Homo sapiens: one gene and its partners. The protein of the gene in region 1 interacts with the protein of each later gene in a biochemical or structural test. Each region holds a gene or a part of one and is shown in the gene's direction. Other genes may lie near its edges.

What was found. Proteins that work in one complex are often made in the same cells at the same time.
Region 2: the proteins of USP13 (region 1) and CLK3 form a complex in vitro, tested with the Homo sapiens proteins (one study listed by BioGRID).
Region 3: of the proteins of USP13 (region 1) and TOPBP1, one has a biochemical effect on the other in vitro, tested with the Homo sapiens proteins (one study listed by BioGRID).

The regions. Positions count from the first base shown.
Region 1 is NC_000003.12:179,648,717-179,656,046, forward strand, and holds the start of USP13 (ubiquitin carboxyl-terminal hydrolase 13), read left to right. Parts: upstream 1-4,323; 5' UTR 4,324-4,509; coding exon 4,510-4,677; intron 4,678-4,941; exon of another isoform or gene 4,942-4,956; coding exon of another isoform or gene 4,957-5,034; intron 5,035-7,330. UniProt on the Homo sapiens protein: Deubiquitinase that mediates deubiquitination of target proteins such as BECN1, MITF, SKP2 and USP10 and is involved in various processes such as autophagy, endoplasmic reticulum-associated degradation (ERAD), cell cycle progression or DNA damage response.
Region 2 is NC_000015.10:74,610,912-74,618,843, forward strand, and holds the start of CLK3 (dual specificity protein kinase CLK3), read left to right. Parts: upstream 1-4,924; 5' UTR 4,925-4,987; intron 4,988-7,932. UniProt on the Homo sapiens protein: Dual specificity kinase acting on both serine/threonine and tyrosine-containing substrates. Phosphorylates serine- and arginine-rich (SR) proteins of the spliceosomal complex.
Region 3 is NC_000003.12:133,616,934-133,623,955, reverse strand, and holds part of TOPBP1 (DNA topoisomerase 2-binding protein 1), read left to right. Parts: intron 1-498; coding exon 499-645; intron 646-762; coding exon 763-865; intron 866-3,608; coding exon 3,609-3,801; intron 3,802-5,522; coding exon 5,523-5,743; intron 5,744-6,629; coding exon 6,630-6,796; intron 6,797-7,022. UniProt on the Homo sapiens protein: Scaffold protein that acts as a key protein-protein adapter in DNA replication and DNA repair. Composed of multiple BRCT domains, which specifically recognize and bind phosphorylated proteins, bringing proteins together into functional combinations.

The DNA.
Region 1 (7,330 bases):
ATGGAATATACTGTATGATAAAAATGATACAAACACCATTTAGTTGCCGTCAATAAGAAATTTACTTGTTTTTAAAAAAATCCAAATGCTGGCATTGTCCAGAAAAATTTAACACGTTTATTATAATTATTATAAAGTTAAACTGCTGAAACTTGTTCACTGAAACATTTTGACTCGCATTAATGCTTTACGTCCCCACATTTATATTAAAAATTCACACACAAATGAAAATGGAAAAACTGCCAATACCTGATTTCTGTCCCCTATTTTTCCACTCGCAATCATATATACTTAGTACGTTTTGACCCCATGGGAAAAAAAAAATAGATAACGTTCAGAACTACCAACAACAGGTAAAAGAAATTGTGTGTGTGTGTGTGTGTGTGTGTGTGTGTGTTAGAATGAAGTGTTTCCCATCATAGTGGCTTCTTTTTTTTTTTTTTTTTTTTTCTGAGACAGGGTTTCGCTTTTCTTGCCCCAGGCTAGAGTGCAATGGCGCGATCTCGGCTCACTGCAACCTCTGCCTCCCAGGTTCAAGCGATTCTCCTGCCTCAACCTCCTGAGTAGCTGGGACTACAGGCATGCGCCACCACACCTGGCTGGTTTTGTATTTTTAGTAGAGATGGGGTTTCTCCATATTGGTCAGGCTGGTCTCGAACTCCCGACCTCAGGTGATCCGCCCGCTTCGGCCTCCCAAAGTGCTGGGATTACAGGCGTGAGCCACCGTGCCCAGCATAGTGGATTCTTAAGCACATTCTTCAGGTATGTGGTGTGTTAGCTGGATGTCTTTTGGCATAATTGTTACATGTTCGGCATGGATAGCACACAGGTTGGTGTCTTCAAAAAGACCAACCAGGTAGGCCTCACTTGCCTCCTGCAAAGCACCAACAGCTGCACTCTGGAAGTGCATATCTGTTTTAAAGTCCTGAGCAATTTCTCGCACCAGACACTGGAAGGGAAGTTTGCGAATCAGAAGTTCAGTGGACTTCTGATAACGTCTAATTTCACGAGTGCCACAGTACCAGGTCTGTAATGATGAGGTTTCTTCACCCGTCCAGTAGAGGGCGCACTCTTGCGGCGTTTGTAGCTAGTTGCTTCCTGGAGTTTTTTTTGTTTGTTTTTTTTTGCTTTTTGTTTTTTTTTTTTTTTTGTTTGAGACGGAGTCTCACTCTGTCGCCCAGGCTGGAGTGCAGTGGCGCGATCTTCGCTCACTGCAACCTCCGCCCCCCAGGTTCAAGCGAGTCTCCTGCCTCGGCCTCCCGAGTAGCTGGGACTCCAGGCGCCTGCCACCGCGCTCAGCTATTTTTTTTTTTTTTTTTTTTTTGTATTTTAACTAGGGACAGGGTTTCACCATCTTGGCCAGGCTGGTCTTGAACTCCTGACCTCGTGATCCACCCGCCTCGGCCTCCCAAAGTGCTGGGATTGCTTCCTGGGTTCTTTACCACCAATTGATTTTTGGGCAGTCAGCTTTGTACCAGCCATGGTATAGTGACCTCCTTACTTAGACCCGTTCTTCTGCTGGAGCGTGGCGAGTGACAGGCGGCGCTGGTGTTGGAGAGCGATGGCTGAGTTTTAATTAACTTTTAAAGCAATACTTGAGGCCGGGCGCGGTGGCTCACGCCTGTAATCCCAGCACTTTGGGAGGCCGAGGTGGGAGACCAGACTGGCCAACGTGACGAAACCCCGTCTCTACAAAAAAAAAAAAAAAAAAACAACAAAAAATTAGCCTGGCGTGGTGGCGTGCATCTGTGGTCCCAGCTACTTGGAAGGCTGAGGCGGGAGAATCGCTTCAACCCAGGAGGCGGAGGTTGCAGTGAGCTGAGAGCGCGCCATTGCAGTCCAGCCTGGGCGACAGAGGGAGACTCCATCTCCAAAAAGAAAGGGGGGGAAAAAGCAATACTTGCACATAATACAAATGGAATCATACAGAAAGCTACAAAGTGGTAGTGTAGTAATCTGTTTTCACGCTGCTGACAAAGACATACCTGAGACCGGGCAATTTACAAAAGAAAGTTTTATTGGACTTACAGTTCCATGTGGCTGGGGAGGCTTCACAATCATGGTGGAAGGTGAAAGGCACGTCTCAGATGGAGGCAGACAACTGGAGAGAGCTTGTGCAGGGAGACTCACGTTTGTAAAACCATCAGCTCTTGTGAGACTTATTCACTATCACAAGAACAGCACGAGAAAGACCTGCCCCCATGATTCAATTACCACCTACTGGGTCTCTCCCACAACACGTGGGAATTCAAGATGAGATTTGGGTGGGGACACAGCCCTACCATACCAGGTAGTAAGTTCTCCCTTAACCTCAGGCTTTCAGTTCTTCTCCACAGAGCCTGACTAGTTTCTTGTGTATTGCTCTAGAGACATCCTAAAGCCAAACAAGTGGGCATGCATACACATATGTATATTTTAAGGGGCTACATTAAAAATATTTACTACAAGTACAACCAACTGGAATGAAGGCCCATGGTATATAGGATGTGCCAAAATGCCTACTGCATATTATCAGCCTTGCATGTATTCCTTGCTTTTATACACTAGTTTGCTTAAATTGCTTTTATCATCTAGTAATAATTTGGAGATTGTTCCACATCAGCACACGTAGAGCAACTTCATTCTTTTCAATGGTACTGTATTTTAACCACTTTCTACAGAAGGATCTTTAGGTTTTCCCCAGACGTTTGTTACTCGAAACAGTGCTCTAACAAATATCTTTACACAGCCTTAATTTATCTGTTGCATAAATGTCTAGACAAGGAAATGCTGGGGAAAACAGTATGCACATATAAAGTTATGACTGGTATTATTACATTTCCTTCCAAAGAGGTTTATCGTTTTTATCCCCACCAACAATGTAATGAGGGTCTACTTCCCAAACCCATGCTAACTCAATATATCTTTACCAGCCCAAAGGATGAAAAACAGTGTCTCACTGATTTAATTTGTATTTAATCTAAGATTAAATTTTAAGTTTTGTAAAACCAAGTTTATCTCTGTAATTGGAGAAAACATCATCCATTAACGTGAAAGGTAATAAGCTGATGAGACTAAATTCAAAGCAAAAGCTCGCTGAGAGGATCTGCCCAATGAGGAAGATGACAGTAGTGTCTGATTTTTTGCTCAGTGCCACCTCCTCCTTTTCCAACAGATAGCATTTGGGAGTGCTGAGTTATAAGAAAGTGTGGTGCGCTCGAGGCTTGCTTGAGGGTATGGAAATCTTGAGATAGGTCTGGAGAACCAGGGAGAGTTAAAAGAGAAAAAAAGTAAGAAAAAAAAAAGAACTTAAGGACTATCTGATCTGAGAGAGGCTTACAAAAATTAGCGTTTTGGTTCACTATTTCTCGCTATTTCTGCATTTCATTAACTGGCAGGGATCACTGGATACTCTGTCATGAATACATATGTTGGGTGTAGTTAGAGAACCTCAATGTCATTGAACCCGTCTTGTGGGTTTTTTGGAGAGAATGAGAGTATGCTGGGAGACATGCTCTGCTTGCAAATGATCAACCCCCGAGGCCAACCCCATTCATCATTTATTTTGAGGAACTGATGATCAAGACAGGAATATGTATGCCTGCCTACAAAATCCTCAAATCAGGCCACTGAATGTTCGACATGAGAACTTTGAATCACATAGAAGATACTCCAAAGGCAGAGAAAAATAGAAAGCCTTCCGACGCCCTGAAAAAATCTTGACCATCCCTGACTTCCCCCAATATGTAAGAAAACCTGTATTATTATTACACACACACTCCCACACACACCCCGCCCTCCCCCACACACACACCCTCTATCCTCACTCGATCTTATTCTATTCGCTCTATTTTTGAGCCTTGGATGTTAAAGTAAGGAACGAAGCTTAGTGGGGAAGCACTGAAGTGCATGGCGCAAATTTAGATTTAAGCCTCACGTTAGATTTCAGATTTGCACATCGAGTCCCGCCCCTATCCAATCCGGGGACGTCACCGCCCTAGTCTTCGGCTGTTTTAAAAGCAAGCGGTTTTTAAAACCCCCAATCCTGCTCTTTGTGTTGGCCTCCTCGGAGTTGCCCCTCTGCAAGCCAACAATTCGGGATAGAAAACACCTCCGTGGTGTTTTCCCGGGGCCCTCCCGCGCCGCGTTCGGCCGCCAGCCCGCTCGAGCTCCCGCGCCAACGCCTCAGGGGTTCGCCCTCCGCCCCCCGCCGCCGCGCCCGGCCCACGCGCAGGGCCCCTCTCCAGCGCCCCCTCCCCGGCACGCTGCGGCTGGCGCTCCCCAGCCCCGCCTGACGCTGCAGCTGGGCCGGAGACTCGCCATTGGATTAAAAATAGCGTCGCCAGTCCGCCCCAAGCCCGCGGTGCCCGCTCCCGCCCCGCAGCCCGCTCTCCCCGCCCGCCCCGGCTCGGCCGGCTGCCGTTGCCCGCGCAGCCCGCCCGTCAGCCCGCTCGCTGGCGCCGCCGCCGCCGGCAGACCCCGCGCTCCGGCTCCGGCTCGGCTCGCTCGGCTCCGGTGCGCGCCGAGGCCATGCAGCGCCGGGGCGCCCTGTTCGGCATGCCGGGCGGCAGCGGAGGCAGGAAGATGGCTGCAGGAGACATCGGCGAGCTGCTAGTGCCCCACATGCCCACGATCCGCGTGCCCAGGTCCGGCGACAGGGTCTACAAGAACGAGTGCGCCTTCTCCTACGACTCTCCCGTAAGTGAGGCGCCTCGGGGGAGGGTCGCGGGGCCGGCGGCCTGCGGCACGTGAAGCCGGGGGAGAAGATGCGCAGTGGCGGCCGGGACCTCTTCTCTTCCTCCGGGCGGCAGAGTTGGCTCAGGAACACTGCAGTTCGGCAGACACTTAGTGAGCGCCCCAGGGCTGCTGCAGCCGAGGACTGGCTCGTGCTGGTGGTTTTGCTCCGCCAGCCTCCCCAGGCTGGAAGGGCCCGATTCCCAGCAGCTTGCACACAGCCCCGCCGCCGTTTAAAGATAGATGAAATACAAGAGTTCCCTGTTCCGAACTGCACGTTGCAGATCGTTTGCGTCCTCCGCGGGGCAGAGCGCAGGGCGGGTAGGTGGACGGGATGATCCCCCCACACCCCGGGACACACACAGCCCTTCTTTTTCTGGGACCACTTGCTTTGCTCAGGGATCCCCACTTCTGGACAATTCTGATTTGCTCTCTGAGCTTTTCTTCCACCAGTTCCCATTTCACCCCACTCCTTTTCTTGTCTTTAGAATGTCAGGGCCAGGCGCGGTGGCTCACGTCTGAAATCCTAGCACTTTTTAAGAGGCGGAGGCGGGCGGATCGTTTGAGGTCAGGAGTTCGAGACCAGCCTGGCTAATATGGCGAAACCCCATCTCTACTAAAAAAGAACCCCAAAATTAGCCGGGCGCGGTGGCGGGAGCCTGTAGTCCCAGCTACTCGGGAGGCTGAGGCTTGAGAATCGCTTGAACCGGGAAGGAGGAGGCTGTAGTGGGCCGAGATCGCGCCACTGCCCTCCAGCCTGGGCGACAGAGCGAGACTCCGTCTCAAAAAAAAAAAAAAAAAAATGTCAGACGAAACCTTCCGGTGCCTCCACTCGGGCAGCAGAAATAGGGGATCTACTGGATTGCGATGGTTTTCTTAAGCCTTCCCCACCTTGCCCTTCTAAATGAGTCACTTGGACTGACATGCGCAAGTATAAATTATTAAAAGTTCAATCCCGAGTCGTGACCTCGGAGAATGAGGAGGAAGCTGAGAGGGATCGCCGCCTTCCACCCGGGGCGGTTGGTGGTGGTTTTCACCTGGTTCTATGTGAATGTGTGAGAAGCAGCAGGAGGGTGAATGTCCCTTTCAAAAGTCAAAATGGGCTTCAAAGTGACTCAGCTGTCTGGCGTTTATCATGTCTTTTTGAGGACCAGGTTATTTTTATCCACCCACTTTAGATCTCATATGTCACCCGGCAGATCTCAATGCATTGGGAGGCGCATGGATTGGATGGACCGAGGCAGGTCTCGCAATGGTCTAATGTATTTTATTCATAGCATGTGGACTATTGTCAGAGGGGAAAAGAAAAGTCCAAATGAGCGGCAACATTTCCAAAGTTTCCTTTATTATCTGTGGGTTGATTTTGGCTGGCTTCAAAGCACTTTTGCTCGACACACACTGGAGTATCAGAGTTAGTATCCTCTCTGTGACATTTAGTTTTTTTATTTATGGTAACTCCATATCATTTGAGGGATGAAACCTAACTTAATTTTTGATTGTTTACTTTTTTTTTCTTTCGAAAAGATCCACAGAGTGGAGTGTGACAATCGGCAGTCCTTTTTTAGGATGTTATCCATAAATTATTTGAAAATGCCATTTTCAGATTGTATGGCCAGTGTTGGGCAGTTCCCACTAATAGCTTCTAAAGGTGGAGAGGGATGATGGTCCTAACTTAAGCAATTGACAGATTGTTACCTCCAGGAAGAAGAAAGTGGCCTAAGTTTTTTAGGATAGCACAACATGGAAAGTGGGTCAAATGACTTTCCCCATGTTTTGATTTGGGCTCTTCTTCAAGTTCTGCTTACAAACTTTGCTCTTGGAAGTTTTTGCTGCATAATGCAGTGGATAACAGGTGTGGGAAAAAAGGCTGATTGTTTTAATTCATTTCCACAAATAGTTATTGGGAGCTTACTGTGTGTGTTTCTAGAATGTTACTATTCTAGAAACATCTCGTCCAGTGTAGACTGATGATTGCAATCATATCACAGCAGTTCCTTAGGGGAGACTGGGATTATTTACAAGGCTGATGAATCAGTATATTTCATTATCTATGTTTCAGGGGAGGAAGGGAAGGTTTGATAATATTTATCTTAAAGCACAGTGCGTGATAATGGGAAGGTTTTTTTTGTTTTGTTTTGTTTTTTTTTTGAGTTTTGCTCTTGTTGCCCAGGCTGGAGTGCAATGGCACAATCTCAGCTCACTGCAACCTCTGCCTCCTGGATTCAAGTGATTCTCCTGCCTCAGCCTGCCAAGTAGCTGGGATTACAGGCGTGTGCCACCACACCTGGCTAGTTTTGTATTTTTAGTAGAGGTGGGTTTCGCCATGTTGGTTAGGCTGCTCTCGAACTCCTGACCTCAAGTGATCCACTCACCTTGGCCTCCCAAAGTGCCAGGATTACAGGCGTGAGCCACTGCACCCAGCCAGTATTTTGTTATGGTATGTAACACTATACTATGAATCCAATAAGGGATTCTTCAGCACCTACTATGTGCCATCTCATACATGCATGACTGTAAGGAGCATAAAGAGCAAAATCCATTGGTGCTAAACACGCCAGAAACTTTAATCCACAAGTGCCACGGGATGTCTTAGGGAAAAGGCCAAAACCAGCTGAGT
Region 2 (7,932 bases), on another chromosome or scaffold:
ACATGAGGCAGAGATCCTGGTAACCTTCCCAAGAACCCTCAGCTTGCACAGCCATCTCCCCCTCTCTGGGGCTCGCCTGTTTCACTCGGGGAGATTGGGCTTCTAAGGAAGCTCTTCAGTCTATGGAGCTAAAACCAGCCCCTCCCTCCCTCAGATTCTCCCTGGGGGGCCACAGGGACCCTGGCCCTTCCTTCACCTCCAGCAGTGTCCCTAGCCACCCCCAGCATATGCCTCTCAGGCAACACCCTGCACCCTTCCAGGGGCACCATTCAGAGACATCTCTGTTCAACACCGCAGCCTTGCTGGGGACTCCATTTCCCTTTCTCCTCTGGGTGCCCCAGACCCCGGAAAGCCTCCCTGAGAATATGGCACCAGATGTGGACACCAGCTCTGGGCATTCTGGAGCTTCAGCCTGCTAAGGGGATCTTGCTAGCTCAGGGGACCTCCTTTCAGCTACAGAAAGCCCAGGAAGAAGGAATGGGGGAGGACAGGGCCTCACTTTCTGCTTTAGGGACCAGCCAAGTCCCAGCTTGTGCTCCCGCCTCTGCAGCACCAGGGCTTGCTCCGACAGGGCCTCCGGCACTGCCCGAAGACGGCTTGCCAGCTCGGCCCTCTGCTGCCTGCTTTCTGCCAGCTGCTCCCACAGGTCCTTCTCTGCCCGCCTCCAGTCCCGCTCGGGGGCCCTGTTGGAGCACATGCCAGGGAAAGAGGAGCCAGACTTCAGCCCAGGCCCCAGGGGGCTGCCATGCCCAACTTTCCTATGCTCACCTGCACCCTTCAGTGGGGCTTGGTGGGCAGACACGGTCCAATGCCCCGAGGAAATAGGAGTTCCAGAGACAGCGGGCAGGGCTGGGCATCAAGTCCATGGGCTCTGCCTCAGTGGGACCTGAGAACAGGACAGATCCTGGAGCTGGGGTAGTCTTGGCTTCCCAAAGCACCAGGCTCTGAGGCCTCTTCTCAGACTCAGAATTGAGGCCCTTTGGCTGAGCACGCACTAAAACCCTTCAACCCTGATCCTCTGGCCCGAAAGTCTCCTGGTGATTGGAACTTCACTAAACACCAGCCTCAACTCCACTAAACAGTTCTCAGTTCCCAGTGGTTTCCATGAGCTGTGGGTGCTGCCAGGGGTGGCCACTTGCTGAACACAAACCCCATTATCCTCACAGCAGCTGGTCTGGGGAGGCGCAGCAGGCACTCCTGAGGGGAAATTGGTGCCCAAGTCCGGCAGGGAGTCCCGTGAGGAGCTGCAATCCCCACCCAACACTGTCTGCACCAGAGCCACGTTCCCCCTTCCAGTGTGGAAGTCTGGAAATGGCAGGGGAGCATTTGGGGGCCACCACAGTTTAGCTATGATGTGGGGGTCAGAGCCCTTAAGTCAAGTCACTGCTCAGGTACCTCTCTGGCTTCCATAGCTTCAGCTGTAATATGGAGGCCCTGACGGACCTCTCACCCACCAGCTTGGTGAGGAAGGTCAGAGGGTAGACAGGGGCTATTCTGCCAGTGTTGCCATCCCTACACCCCTCACCATCACCCTCCTCACCTCTAGGGTCTGGGCCCAAGTCCACTGCCTCCCAACTCCCAACCCTGGGCACGAGGCACCCTGCCCTGGCTCTGAAAGGGCACAGGAGTTGTCTTCACCTAAGCAGTGGTTACACCTAGCACCTCTACCACCCCCACCCTGACCTCCCCACTCCTCACATTCCCAGGCCTTCTCCACTCAGGATGGCACCATCGCCCACCAGGCCTTCTCCCCACTGGACAGCTTGACTCTCCTCTCCCCTTACTCCAGGCCCAGGCTCCTGCAGCCCCCTCCAAAATTGTCTCCCCTCCAAAATGTCACTGCCACACAAGGCTTCTCTAAGACAGACCATGAGGACTGGCCGCTGCCCCCACCTCCCATACTGGGTACAGCTCCCACAATGCCACTCTACCTGGGTGCTCTGTCTTGCCAGTTAGAAGTGACAGGCTTTCCATGGCAGCCCCCTGCCCTTAGTGAGAAGCTGAGCTGTGCCCAGCTTGGTCCGGGAGGGGCTCATGGTCCACAGAATGGAGTGCACATGCAGGCCAGATTGTCCTGAGCAGGGGGGCAGGCCAGGGCAGCCCCAGGAAGGCTTTCCAGGGAGGTGACCCTGGGGCCAAGGCTCAGAGGTGAATTAACTGCCTCCAGAGAAGGCAAAGTCAGATGAGGCAGACAGAGGAGACAGTAAGGACAATAGAACAAGGAGGGCATCAGAGCAGCTGGGCCTGGCGGGCAGTGAACTGAGCCCTAAGCTTGGTGGAAGTGGAGGTGGGGGGCAAAAGGGAGACCAAAAGGGGTGAGAGGAGCTGTGGGGTTTGGGAGGATGCAGGGCAGCGGCACCTCCCCAGTGCCCTTGAGATATGCTACAGACCTCAACTCCACAGAGGCTGAGGACCCAGACAGGAGCTTGGGCCTGAGGGGCAGTGGAGGTGGAGCAAGCCTCCTCTGAGGTGGGGATGGGAGTGGAGGAGTTACCCAAACCTCACCTGGGGGCAGATCTTTCTCCAAGTTTCTGAAAGGTGTGAAAGTCACAAAAGAATGAAGCTCTAAGGGTAGAATCTCAGGCAGGATGGCCTCCAGGCTGCAAAGTGTGGAGAGGGAGACAGCTGGGAGATGGCTTCTGTTCCACCTCAGAAAAAGAGAGTTGCTTCGTGGCTGGGAGGTAGGGACTCCTGGATTCTCAGTGGTGGGCAGTTTTGTGGGAAGGTGACTAACTTACCCCATCAGAGCCTATAGCTCAGGGCAGGGCTGGGGACAGAAGCTTCTCTGAGAACATCCATCCCGGGGACAGAAGCTTCTCTGAGAACATCCATCCCTCAGGGCTAGTATCCTGGAGCCATGGAAACTCAGGCAACACTAAGTGGTGGGAGGAGGAGACACCAGAGAGGCCTCCTACTCCACCTCATCTGAGCTGATGAAACCCCGAGATGGAACCTGGCTAGTGTGGTCGAGGCCATGGGTACCAGGCAGGAATGGCATCTCAGATGGCCTGGGATTTTTCAAAATCTTCAGCTTTTGAGATAGGACCTTAGGGGGCAGGACCTCAGCAGCCAATCTGGGTCACCCACTGTACACTGAAGCGGCTCCTAACTTTCTTTTTTGAGACGGAGTTTTGCTCTCTTGCGCAGGCTGCAGTGAAGTGGCGCGATCTCGGCTCACTGCAATCTCTGCCTCCCGGGTTTAAGTGATTCTCCCACCTCAGCCTCCCGAGCATCTGGGACTACAGGCGCGTGCCACCACGTCTAGCTAATTTTTGTATTTTTAGTAGAGACGGGGTTTCGCCATGTTGGCCAGACTGGTCTCGAATTCCTGACCTCAGGTGATCATCCACCTCAGCCTCCCAAAGTACTGGGATTAGAGGGGTGAACCACCGCGCTTGGCCGATTTTTTGTTTATTTTTTGAGACAGGGTCTCCTTCTGTCGACCAGGCTGGAGTGCAGTGGTGTGATCATAGCTCACTGCAATCTCAACCTCCTGGGATCAAGCGATCCTCCTGCCTCAGTCCCCTGCAAGGAGCTGGAACTACAGGCATGCGCCACCCAGTCCGGCTAATTTTTGTAATTTTTTGGAAGGGGACCCAGTTTTGAATTAGCTTCTGTTGTTTACTTCGGATAGCCATGGTGGAGCTGGCAGAGATTTAGGGGATACTAAACACCCCTACAAATCACGCCTTGAAACCCCCCGTTTCAGGGAGAGCCGCTGGCGAAGGACTTGATGCGCAGCCGCAGCTCGGAAGCGGGGGGCTCCCCTGCGACACCTCCCCGCTTCAGGGGCGGGCCCAGACCCGCGGGGAGGGGCATGGGCGGGGCCGCGGCTGGCTGGCGGCCGCCGGGGCGGTGCTGGGGAAACCCTTGGCGCCCCCGCGGAGCGGTCCCAAGGAGGGGGCGGTGCCTGGAGGGATGGTCCGCCCCGACTGCGGGTTTCTAGCCCTCGCGTGGCGTGGGGACAATTAGGCGCCACGCCCTGTCGCTTCACTGCGCGACGCTCGCGAGGCCGGGGACGCCACTCCCAGACCGGGCGGGACGCGCACGCTCACAGTGAGGTCTCAAAAGATCCCCACCTCAGTTTTCTCATCTGGAAAGTGGGGCCTCGTAATCCTGTCCGACCCGGCGCGGGACAGTAGGTGTCAGGGATTTTGGTGACCCCACGCTCGAGGCCTCTGCAAAAGGGGGCTGTCCAGTGGCCCAGAGACGCAGCCGGCGGGGCTTTTGTCTAGCGGGGGAGTCTTAACTGAGAGGCCACGCAGGCCGGCAGGAAGCCGCTCCACAGGAGGGGGCTCAAGGAGAGGGGATCTCCTCCCTCCAGACTCCGGCCCCGCCAGAGTAGCTCTAGGGTATCTTCCCAGAAACTGCCCCGCACGCACTGGCGAGCTGGGAGCGCCACCACGGCTTTCAAAAAACCCGCACACACCAAGATAATAATGTGTCGTTCGCTCGTTTCGCGCAAGCGGAGTCGCGTCCGCCTTCCCGAGCTCCGGCACACAGACCTCAGGCCGCTCTCGCGCTCTCCGGGGCCCCGAGAACAATGCCCGTCCTCTCCGCGCGCAGGAGGGAGTTGGCGGACCACGCGGGGTCGGGGCGACGGAGCGGGCCCAGCCCCACGGCCAGGTCGGGGCCCCACCTCTCGGCTCTGAGAGCCCAGCCGGCCCGGGCCGCGCACCTGTCAGGTCGGGGGACCTACGTGCGCCGCGACACGGCGGGAGGCGGGCCGGGCCAGGCTCGTCCCCTCGGCCCTCCCGGAACTAGTCTCCTAGGCCGCGGCGCCCGCCGGAGCGGAGAGGGCTGGTGCCCCGGAGCCTTCGAGTCGGGGGCTAGAGCGGCCAGGCCTCCGAGCCGGGTCGAGCCGAGGCTGGCGACGGCTGCGTCACGCGAGGGGGCGGGGCTGCCACGGGCGGAGGTCGCAGCCGGAAGCGGAAGAGGCGCTCGGAGCGGGGAGTGGGGCCTAGCTGCAGCCGGAGCCTGGGAGACGGTAAGTGTGGGCTGGGGTCCGCGGCGGCGACAGCGGCGGCGGCGGCCGGGGGTGAGTCGGCGGGGCAGGCGCGCTGGTGCCATTCGGTCTCGGCCTACTCCCTTTCTTTCTCCTCTTCGGCCCATATCGGGCCGCGACCTCTCACCCCTGACCCGCTGCTTCTGCCCCGGAGGGCGGTCACTGCAGACCCTGACCTCGACCCCACGGTGTTGAAGGCGGAGCCTGAACGGCCTCTGGGGCCGCTCAAGGGTCCAGTTTGGGCTCTGTGCCTGCCCGCGGAATGGGGTCGGGGTCCGACGTAGAAGAGCCAGAGAAGCCCTTCAGACCCCTCCCCTACCCCTGGCTTCAGGCTTAGTCCGCAGATGACTCCTCCCTTGGCGGCCTGGAGTTTGATTCTGGCCCAGTCCGGCTTTCCCTCTGTCCCCGGGTCTCCCCTCGGCGCCACTGGTGGCGGTTACAGGGGATGGGACTCTGAGACCCCCTGGGACCTGGGGCGGCAGGAAGGGACGCGAACGAGGGCGCAGGCTCCCCTGTGTGTTTTGTTGTGGTGGTAGAGCCACTCCAGCCCGGAGGATGGGCTAGGCCAAGCTGACAGTTCAAATCCCCTGGCTGCTCCTCCGTCCCGCCCGGGAGTCTCTAGCTTTAGTTCCGGGTGTGGGTGCCCTGATGTGGAGCTGGGGTGGAAATTGCCTGAACCAGGCCCCCATCAGAGGCGGAGTTGGCGGCCTTCCAGCTTCCCTTCTTGATGCCCTTGAAAAGGAGGAGCGTTTCACCGTTGGTGGTGGAGGCTTGCGAGGTGGCAGGTTTGAGGTTGCAGTGGTAGGGCAGTCCAGCCAAAAATAACCATGGGTGCTGGGGTGGCTGGAATCCGGGAGGGCAGCCGCTGACCTGGCTGGCTGCACTTCTAGTCAGCCCAGTTCTCTGGCCAGGAACAGCAAATGAGAAGCCGACAAGGCCTGTGCTCAAAGTTGACATCCTTGGCTTGGTTTTCTTCATATCACCTTTTTCCTCATTGTGCAGAGCAGAGCTTCCCAAAGCATAATTGTGGCCTTTAGCTGCTTTTTAAACAAGCTGTTTGCTGAGGTTTTCGAGAATCAGAGATAATTGAGAAATGGGCCCTAGAGCCCTGGCTGGGAGGATGATATCTGCTATTTCCAATATTTTACTTGCCTAGAATGTGTTAAAGGAAGGATACTCTTCTCTGTTATTGCTTTGTGTGTGGTACCTTATAACTCTCATGCTTGTCATCTCTTTTGCCAGGCTGAGAGATGTTATCTCCATTTTCCAGGCATGCTAACCAAGGCCTAGAGTGACTTGTCTAAGGTCATGAGGCTGGTATGTGACAGCACTAGGATTTAGTTTAGTTTTCTGCCAGAGCTCTTGCCTCCCAGTTTCCTTGGAAGGGACTTATAAAATGTCTGTAAGGCATTTAACACAGCCCTGAAGTGTTACCTGGAACTTTCAGATGTTCATGAAAAGCTGCCACTAGTACCTCTGTGGGCACAAAGCTGTGCTAGGCATTTCACTTATAGGAGAGAGATATTTAATCCTCACAGAACCTTGTAAGAGATTACTATTCCCTTGTTGCAAGATGAAGCTGACGGTCAGAGTAGTGTAATAATTTGTTCAAAGGCACACAGCTAGAAGTGGCAAGCCATGATTCAGATTGACATCTATATGACTCTGAAATTTTGTTTTCCATTGATGTGAATATGTATGGACATAAGAATCTTCTAGGTCCCAGGAGGTAGTCTTTGGCGTGGTGTGACTGTGACTGTGTCCTCCAGCTCTGGTGTTTGTCTGCCCAGTGAGGATGGGCAGGACCATACTTGCCTTGTGGCACGACATGTGCCCTGGCCAATAGAGCATCTTCTGGGTCAATTAGTGGGGTGTGAGTTCCTGCTTTCATTCCATAGCTTGGGCACCTGACCCAGAGTAATTGCAGGAAAACAGTGAAATATTAGTCAGCTGATTACCAAAACAACAAATCTAAGCTTTTGGGGAGGTGATTTCACAAAATATTTATCTCCAAAGACTTCCCAGGTACACGGGGGAAGACAAGTTAGTGGGGAGATGGAGGGCTTTCTTAGGGACACGGAGAGGCTCCCAGGGGTTTGGTCACATAGGCCTCACTGTCCTGCTCAAGCATGGGGAGCTGTTCTATGCTGCTTTTCTCCTGACAGACCCTGCTGGTGAGATGGGGCAGCCTCAGTGGGTTTGTACAAAATGTGCTTGGCCAGGCAAGCTCAGGACTGACCATGACTGGAGGTTGGCTGTGGCCAAGTGTGAGTGTTGGGAAGAAGGCTGGCTCCATGGAGGCAGTCAGGGATTGACGTATGGGTGGAGCAGGTTGCTGGCCTCACATGGCCAGCTTTCTCCGCTGGTGGCAGATCCAGCCTGGCAATTTCATTTGGTGGATATAAGTCCTCACTGAACAGGGATAGTGAGGTGGGGCTCTTTTACCTGCCAGATGGCTAACCCTCTGGCTATCCTGGGATAGGCGGAGGGTAGGATACTAGAGCCAGAGAGCTAGAAGAAGGGACAGTAACGGTACTGTTGGATAAAGGCAAGGCACCTGGCAGGGCACTGTGGGGGTCTAAAAGGGTGCTAAATGGGCCTCTGGAAAGAAAGTTAGATGCGCTGGGTCCACGTCCCCTTGGGTTGACCCTCAGGAGGGCTATGGAATGTTTGTGAGGCCTGTGTGCCTCTTTCTCCAAGGGCTGCTCTTCTAGTCTCTTGTGGCTCCTCATGCTCACTTGTGGTCCTTACTCCCTTGAGTGGGGTCCAGTTCAGGGCCCTAGCCAGACAGCGTTCAGCTTCTCAAACTTGAGGGCTTTGAGCCCTCGCCTCCTGTGTACAGCCCTTTGCCTGGCCTTTGGCTTTACAGAGCATTCACTTCACGGGACCGCCCCCCCGGGCGGGAGGGAATAGAGTGCAGGAGGCTC
Region 3 (7,022 bases), about 46 Mb from region 1:
ACTAGAAGCCAGTTTAATAGTCTTGGTTAACTGTACACATTTCAGATCTTTGGCATCAAAAACTTAACATCTTTAGTCCTTAAATACTTAACAAATCTTTAATGGATACTCTTTCTAATTCTCCATTTCCTTGTACTAATTAAAAATGTGATATGAATGGAAAGTTTATAATTATTTGGGGAAAATTTAACATATCAATAGAGTTTAGATCTGTGTTTCTTTTTTTTCCTGGGTATTCTCTGGAGGGTAATTGATACCTTTGCAAAAGCACAGGAATGGTTTCAGATTTTATACTTCAGTGGATATGACATTTAAAACATGAGGACAATCTGTCATTTGTATGATGCAAATTTTTCAGTGTAAACTACTTTTCAAACCAGTTTTGTGAACTTTTTGCCATATTACAGTATAATGTATTGCTTGTCCTTATCCTACTTAACATCATCTATTCATTAAGATTTTGTCAGTCCTGTCTTAAAGCACACCATTGTATTGCAGTGTGCCCAAGAGTGTAAACATCTTCCTGAATCTCTTTATCCACATACTTATAATCCCAAAATGAGCTTGGATATCAGCGCAGTGCAAGATGGCCGGCTCTGTAATAGTCGACTACTCTCAGCTGTGTCTTCAACAAAGGATGATGAGGTAGGAGATATGGATGATACATTTACCCCCTCTTAAGCTAAAGGTATAATCATATATTGCTATGAAACCTTATACAGTGGCTTGGTTTGAGAATTTATAATTTTTCTTTTTCAATAGCCAGATCCTTTGATTTTAGAAGAAAATGATGTAGACAATATGGCCACCAATAATAAAGAGTCAGCACCATCAAATGGAAGTGGAAAGAATGACTCTAAAGGAGGTAAAATATTTTATTTTTTAATTAAAAAAATTTTTTTTGAGACAAGGTCTCAATTTTTTGTGGAGATGGGGTCTTGTCATCTTGCCCACACTGGTCTGAAACTCCTGGGCTGAAAGGATCCTCCTGCCTTGTGAGCCACTGCACCCAGCTGTAAAATATGTTTAAATTACTAAATACAAGCAAAGCATATATTAGAGGATTGATTTGTGGTCCCATGCTGATCATTAAGTGATAATTTGCAAAGTTTTATGTAGTTTAAGTGTAAAGCTTATGAAATTTATGAAACTAGGTTTTTATGGAGTTAGTGTGATACAGCCCTATTCCATTAAAGGTAGGTGAAGTTGGTGATTTTTTAAAAATCTAGTCTTTGGTCCAGTTCTTTTGAGTGATTTTCAAAAAGTTTTCTTATATGTACAATATATTTTAACATATCCACATGGTTTTAAAGATACAAAAAGACATATGAAGAGTTTCTTCCACCCTTATTCTCCAGCCCCCCAGTGTTATTAGTTCCTTATGTATCCTTCTAGAGCTGCTTTATGCATATATAGCCGTAAATATGTTTTTCCCCCATTAAAAAAAAACAAACAAACACATAGGCTGGGCATGGTGGCTCGTGTCTGTAATCCCAGCACTTTGGGAGGCTGAGGCAGGCAGATCACCCAAGGTCAGGAGTTTGAGATCAGCCTGGCCAACATAGAGAAACTCCGTCTCTACTAAAAATACAAAAAATTAGCCGGGCATGGTGGTTGCATGCCTGTAATTCCAGCTACTCGGGAGGCTGAGGCAGGAGAATCGCTTGAACTCGGGAGGCGGAGGTTGCGGTGAGCCGAGATCATGCCATTGCACTCCAGCCTGGGCAAGAAGAGCAAAACTCTTGTCTCAAAAAAAAAAAAAAAAAAAAACATAAATGGTGGACTACTATACATGCTATTTCATACGCTGATCTTTTTGTTACCTTGGGTAGTGTTTTATATCAGTAGATAACTAGGAGCTTCTTTAGTCTTTTTCTTTCTTGCTTTTCTTCCTTCCTTCCCTCCCTTTCCTTCCTGTCCCCCTTCCTCTCCTTTCCCTCTTCCCTTCCTTTCCCTTTCCTTCTTTCTTCCCTTTTCTTTCTTTTTGGGCAACTGTATTGTATTCATTATGAATGGTCCCACTTTGTTTAGGCATCCATTCTTAATAGGCATTTAGGTTATTTCTACTTTCTTGCTTTTATAAATAGTACTGCAGTGAATAACCTTATACATGGATGTCTTTTAATAGATTTAATATGTTCTGTTTTCCTTACTCATTCTAACCTACCAAAGCTTTCCCTATGACTTACCTATTTGGTTAGTCTCACTCTGTTCATTCCAAATGCATTTATTTAATACTTACTCCAGAGTTTAGGCTTTAAAGAAAACCAAAGGTAAATACAGTTGTCTTGTCCCTTGGTATCCATGTGGCAGTGGTTCCGAGGACTTACCTCAGGTACCAAAATCCACAGATGCTTAAGTTCCTTATGTATAAAATGACATAGGATTTGAATTTAACCAATGCACATCCTCCTGTATACTTTAAATCATCTCTGGATTACTTATAATACCTAATGCACTGTAAATGTTTTGTAAATAGTTATATTTTATTTTTTTTACTGGTACTTTTAATTGTGATATTTTTCATTTTTATGTCTTTAAAATATTTCTGATCCATACTTGGTTGAATCCATGCATGCAGAACCGGTGGATGTGGAGGGCTGGATGTATGTTGTGGTCTGTGTTTTCAAGAGCCTTTGGGGAGTCTGGGCACGGTGGCTCACACCTGTAATCTCAGAGCTTTGGGAGGCAAAGGCAAGAGGATTGCTTGATGCTAGGGGTTCCAGATCAGCCTGGGCAACATAGTGAGACCTTGTCTCTACAAAAAATTTAAAAAATTAGCTGGGCGTGGTAATGTACACCTGTAGTGCCAGCTACTCAGGTTGCTGAGGCTGGAGGATCACTTGAGCCCAGGAGTTAGAGGTTATAATGAGCTATGACCATACCACTGCAGTCCAGCCTGGGCCACAGAGCAAGACTCTGTCTCTAAAAAATTAAAAGAATCTTTGGGAAAAATCAGACACATACACAAATGACTATAAGACATCTCAGAGTGTAGTACATACCATGAGAGTCAGAAGCAGGCAGGGAGCTTTACAGAGGGATAATCACTACAGGTCTTGATGAAATGTCTTTGAAGGGGGCCAGGCACGGTGGCTCATGCCTGTAATCCTAGCACTTTGGGAGGCTGAGGTGGGCAGATCACCTGAGGTCAGGAGTTCAAGACCAGCCTAGCCAACGTGGCGAAACCGCGTCTCTACTAAAAAATACAAAAATTAGCCCGGCATGGTGATGGGCACCTGTAATCCCAGCTACTTGAGAGGCTGAGGCAGGGAGAATTGCTTGAACCTGGGAGGTGGAGGTTGCAGTGAGCCGAGGTCGCACCACTGTCCAGCCTGGGCGACAGTGCTAGACTATCACCAAAAAAAAAAAAAAAAAAGTATTTGAAGGGCTTCCTAGTTATTTCATATACAGTGCTTGTGGTAAGGGCTGCTTTTTATGTTCTGCAGTATTCATAGTTTTAGTACATTACTATAGCCTGTAGTTAATATTCAGTAAATGTCAAGTCAATAAGTTTGTGTTCAACCAGGTCTAAACAAAATAGTTAATGTAAGATATGGTAAAAAAGAGGAACTTACCTTGAATGGTGTATTTGTGTTTGTTTCAAGTTCTGACACAGACCTTAGAGATGAGAGAGAACTTTCAGAAGCAGTTACAGGAGATAATGTCTGCAACATCAATAGTGAAACCCCAAGGGCAGAGGACTTCCCTTTCAAGAAGTGGTTGTAACAGCGCATCTTCAACCCCTGACAGCACTCGCTCTGCTCGCAGTGGACGAAGTAGAGTCCTAGAGGCACTGAGGTGTGTACCTGTCACTGATGGCAGAAAGACTAGATGACTTGAGAGAAAGGATTTACGTACCTGCTGCTGACTCAATTCCATGAGCTTGGCCTAATTTAGCTTTTTTTTCTTTTTTTCCCCAATATGCAGTAAAAGCTGAAATTTAAATATCAAGACTAGTGAAGGGGTTATATGCCTAGGCCTTATTTAGCCCAAACAGTAAATATTATATTCCAGTATTATCTATTGCTTTTGGCTCTCTGCTGACTAGATTTTTCGTTCTAGCTTGTCCTTCCATTTCTTGCTCCCAGCAGTTCTAGATTTCTTACTCGGAGGTGGAGCAGACATGGAGATTTGTCTTACAGCAGCACCTGCTTCACAGTGAGGCATGATTGATACTTTTTATTACCTCCGTTGAGAAAGAAATGATTTTAAGATCTAATTTGCCTCATTTGAAATGGATTCAGTAGGCAGTTCTCTCTGCTCTTTAGTATTAGTATTCAATAGTATTTGTATTAAACAATAAGTACATATATATTTTTTCAGAGTCTTTTTCTAATGCAATATGTAAAATCTTAAAGTTATTTTTGTTGGGATTTTGCATGCATTTTGTATTCTCCTTGTAAAATTTATCTTCTAGAAAAGGTGATTACAGTTTCTAGTGTGATGTGACTTAAGCTCAGTTGCATAACTTCATCTTTTTCGTGATAGAAGAAAAAAATCTATAATTGTGTGATAAGAATTATGGGACTTGTATTTTCAGTTGACTAATTGAATTAAGTATAAGATAAACTAGCATTTATCTTACGCTAACTGTATTACATGAGGCAGTTCATTATCTCAGTACTGAGTAAAGTAGCTTTTTAATATGCTTCAGATCATGTTTTATCATTATAGAGAACCTAAATCCTGTACCAAATCAGAGTAAATAAATATAGTGTGAGAATAAAAGGCTATATTCTTTATTTTTGAAGCAAAGGAACTATTTGGGGGTTCCTTTGGTAAATTGTTTTATGGGTTTTGGTGTTTTGTTTTGTTTTTTGTTTTTTGTTTTTTTTTTTTTTGCTTCTCCACAGTGTAAGTTTTATGGTAAATTATTTTTACTAAGAATGAATGAATGAGTGAATATAAAGAAAATTATAGGACTTCTATTTACTGTCACGTGGAATCATTACAATCGCACCATAAAATGCACTTCCCTGTAATTCAGCATATTGCTGTTCCACCGTAGACTCTGGAAAGTGGTTACCAATAGCCAAAAGGCCCTTCTGATAAGGCAGCCTTTACAGCAAGCCTCCCATGTAATCATAGTGCTTATAATTTCAAGTAATTAAAAAATATAACTACTGTTAAGTAAAGTAACCATAGTGTTTGAAACATTACCCTGTTTCCCTAACCTGTATAATTAAGGAAAATCACATTTTTAAATGTACCAATTACTTTAGTATTTTTAAAAAATTTCTTGACACTGTTGAATTTCTCCTTTGAAGTTTTAGTTCTGTAGACATGTAGTCAAAATATGTGTTCCTAGCTAAAACAGATAACTTTTCTGGAAGAAACCTTAAACCTTTTTAAAAAAAAAAAATGTCCCTAGGTTCATTTATTTAATATTTTTAATGCATACTGTGTGCTAGATGGTGGGCATATAAAGGTGAGCCACAACTTTTATGGTCTAACTTATGGATTTAATGAGTTTGGATTTGTTATTGCTGTTTATTTAAACTGTCACTTCTATTCCTTAGGCAGTCTCGTCAGACAGTACCTGATGTCAACACAGAGCCTTCCCAAAATGAACAGATCATTTGGGATGACCCTACAGCAAGGGAGGAGAGAGCAAGGCTTGCCAGCAATTTGCAGTGGCCTAGTTGTCCCACACAATACTCTGAGCTTCAGGTTGACATTCAAAACTTGGAGGATTCTCCTTTTCAAAAGCCTTTACATGATTCAGAAATTGCTAAACAGGGTAACAAGAAAGAAATCTTTGCATTTGTTTGTATTAAGTACATGTTGACCTCTTAAAAATAAACAGATGAGCATGTTGTAGTTCTCTGATCTGAATGTGCAAACAAAAAAAACTTCGTAGATATTTCTGGTTTTGGTTTAAACTTGAGCCAGAAAAATAATTTGTAAATTGAGGTACTTCATCAGTAAATTGAAAAACATTTTCATAAATTTGGAAATTTAGAATTGGGCGTTTTTTTCTAGACATGGTGTCTACCATTGTTCTTTTATTCTAGCTAACCCTTTTTGTGTTTGTGGAGTTAATGCTTGGTTTTTCTTCCTATCATCTTATTTTCATTTAAGTCTTTTGAATTCTGCCTAGCACATACCTACATTTGTTCTTTGGATTGTATGAGTTTCTTTCTGAATTCTCCTATTTTTTTTCTTCCTTGAGCTTTACCTTAAAAACAAAATTTTCCTATCTCTCATCTTTTTTCTTCCTTTTCTTCTTTTTCACATTGCATGATGACCTCCCATTAGATATATAGATTTATCTCTGCTTCTGCTTTTCTCCAAGTGTAGAATTGCTCTCATGTTACAAATTTGGGTTACACTTAACAATGAAAACTTGGTATTTAAGGAAAATGTTGGGAGAAGCCCACAGATAACACACTTGCTCTGTTTAATGCTAATAAATTGCATTTTTTCTTTATTGTTATTATTGTCACATGCAGATGGGATGCATTTATTTATAAGTTCTGGGGATAGGATACTTTTTTGCCTGTACTTTTTACATTCCAGAGTTTGTGCTTGACTTCATCTTGACTAAGACAGATGAGAATATTTCCTAGAATTTGTTTTTAGTCTTATTTGGATCCTGTCACACTGCAGCATTTTATTGTCCTCAGCTGTCTGTGATCCTGGAAACATACGTGTGACTGAAGCTCCCAAACACCCAATCTCTGAAGAACTGGAAACTCCCATAAAAGACAGCCACCTGATCCCTACGCCTCAAGCCCCCAGTATTGCCTTTCCACTCGCCAACCCCCCTGTGGCTCCGCACCCTAGAGAAAAGGTTTGTTGATCCTTAATATGGTGATACAGCTTTTGCATACTGCTGTTAGGCTGTATTAGAAATTTGTTGATGTCAATATCAAGGCTTCATCAAATGTTGAAAACTATTTTTTGCATTGTATCATTATTTGTATATTTCATAACTTAGAAGACTGAGTAAAATACCACTATAAAAGAACTGTGTATCTGATCATTTTTAATGTTAATTTTTTCTAAAGTAAAACTTT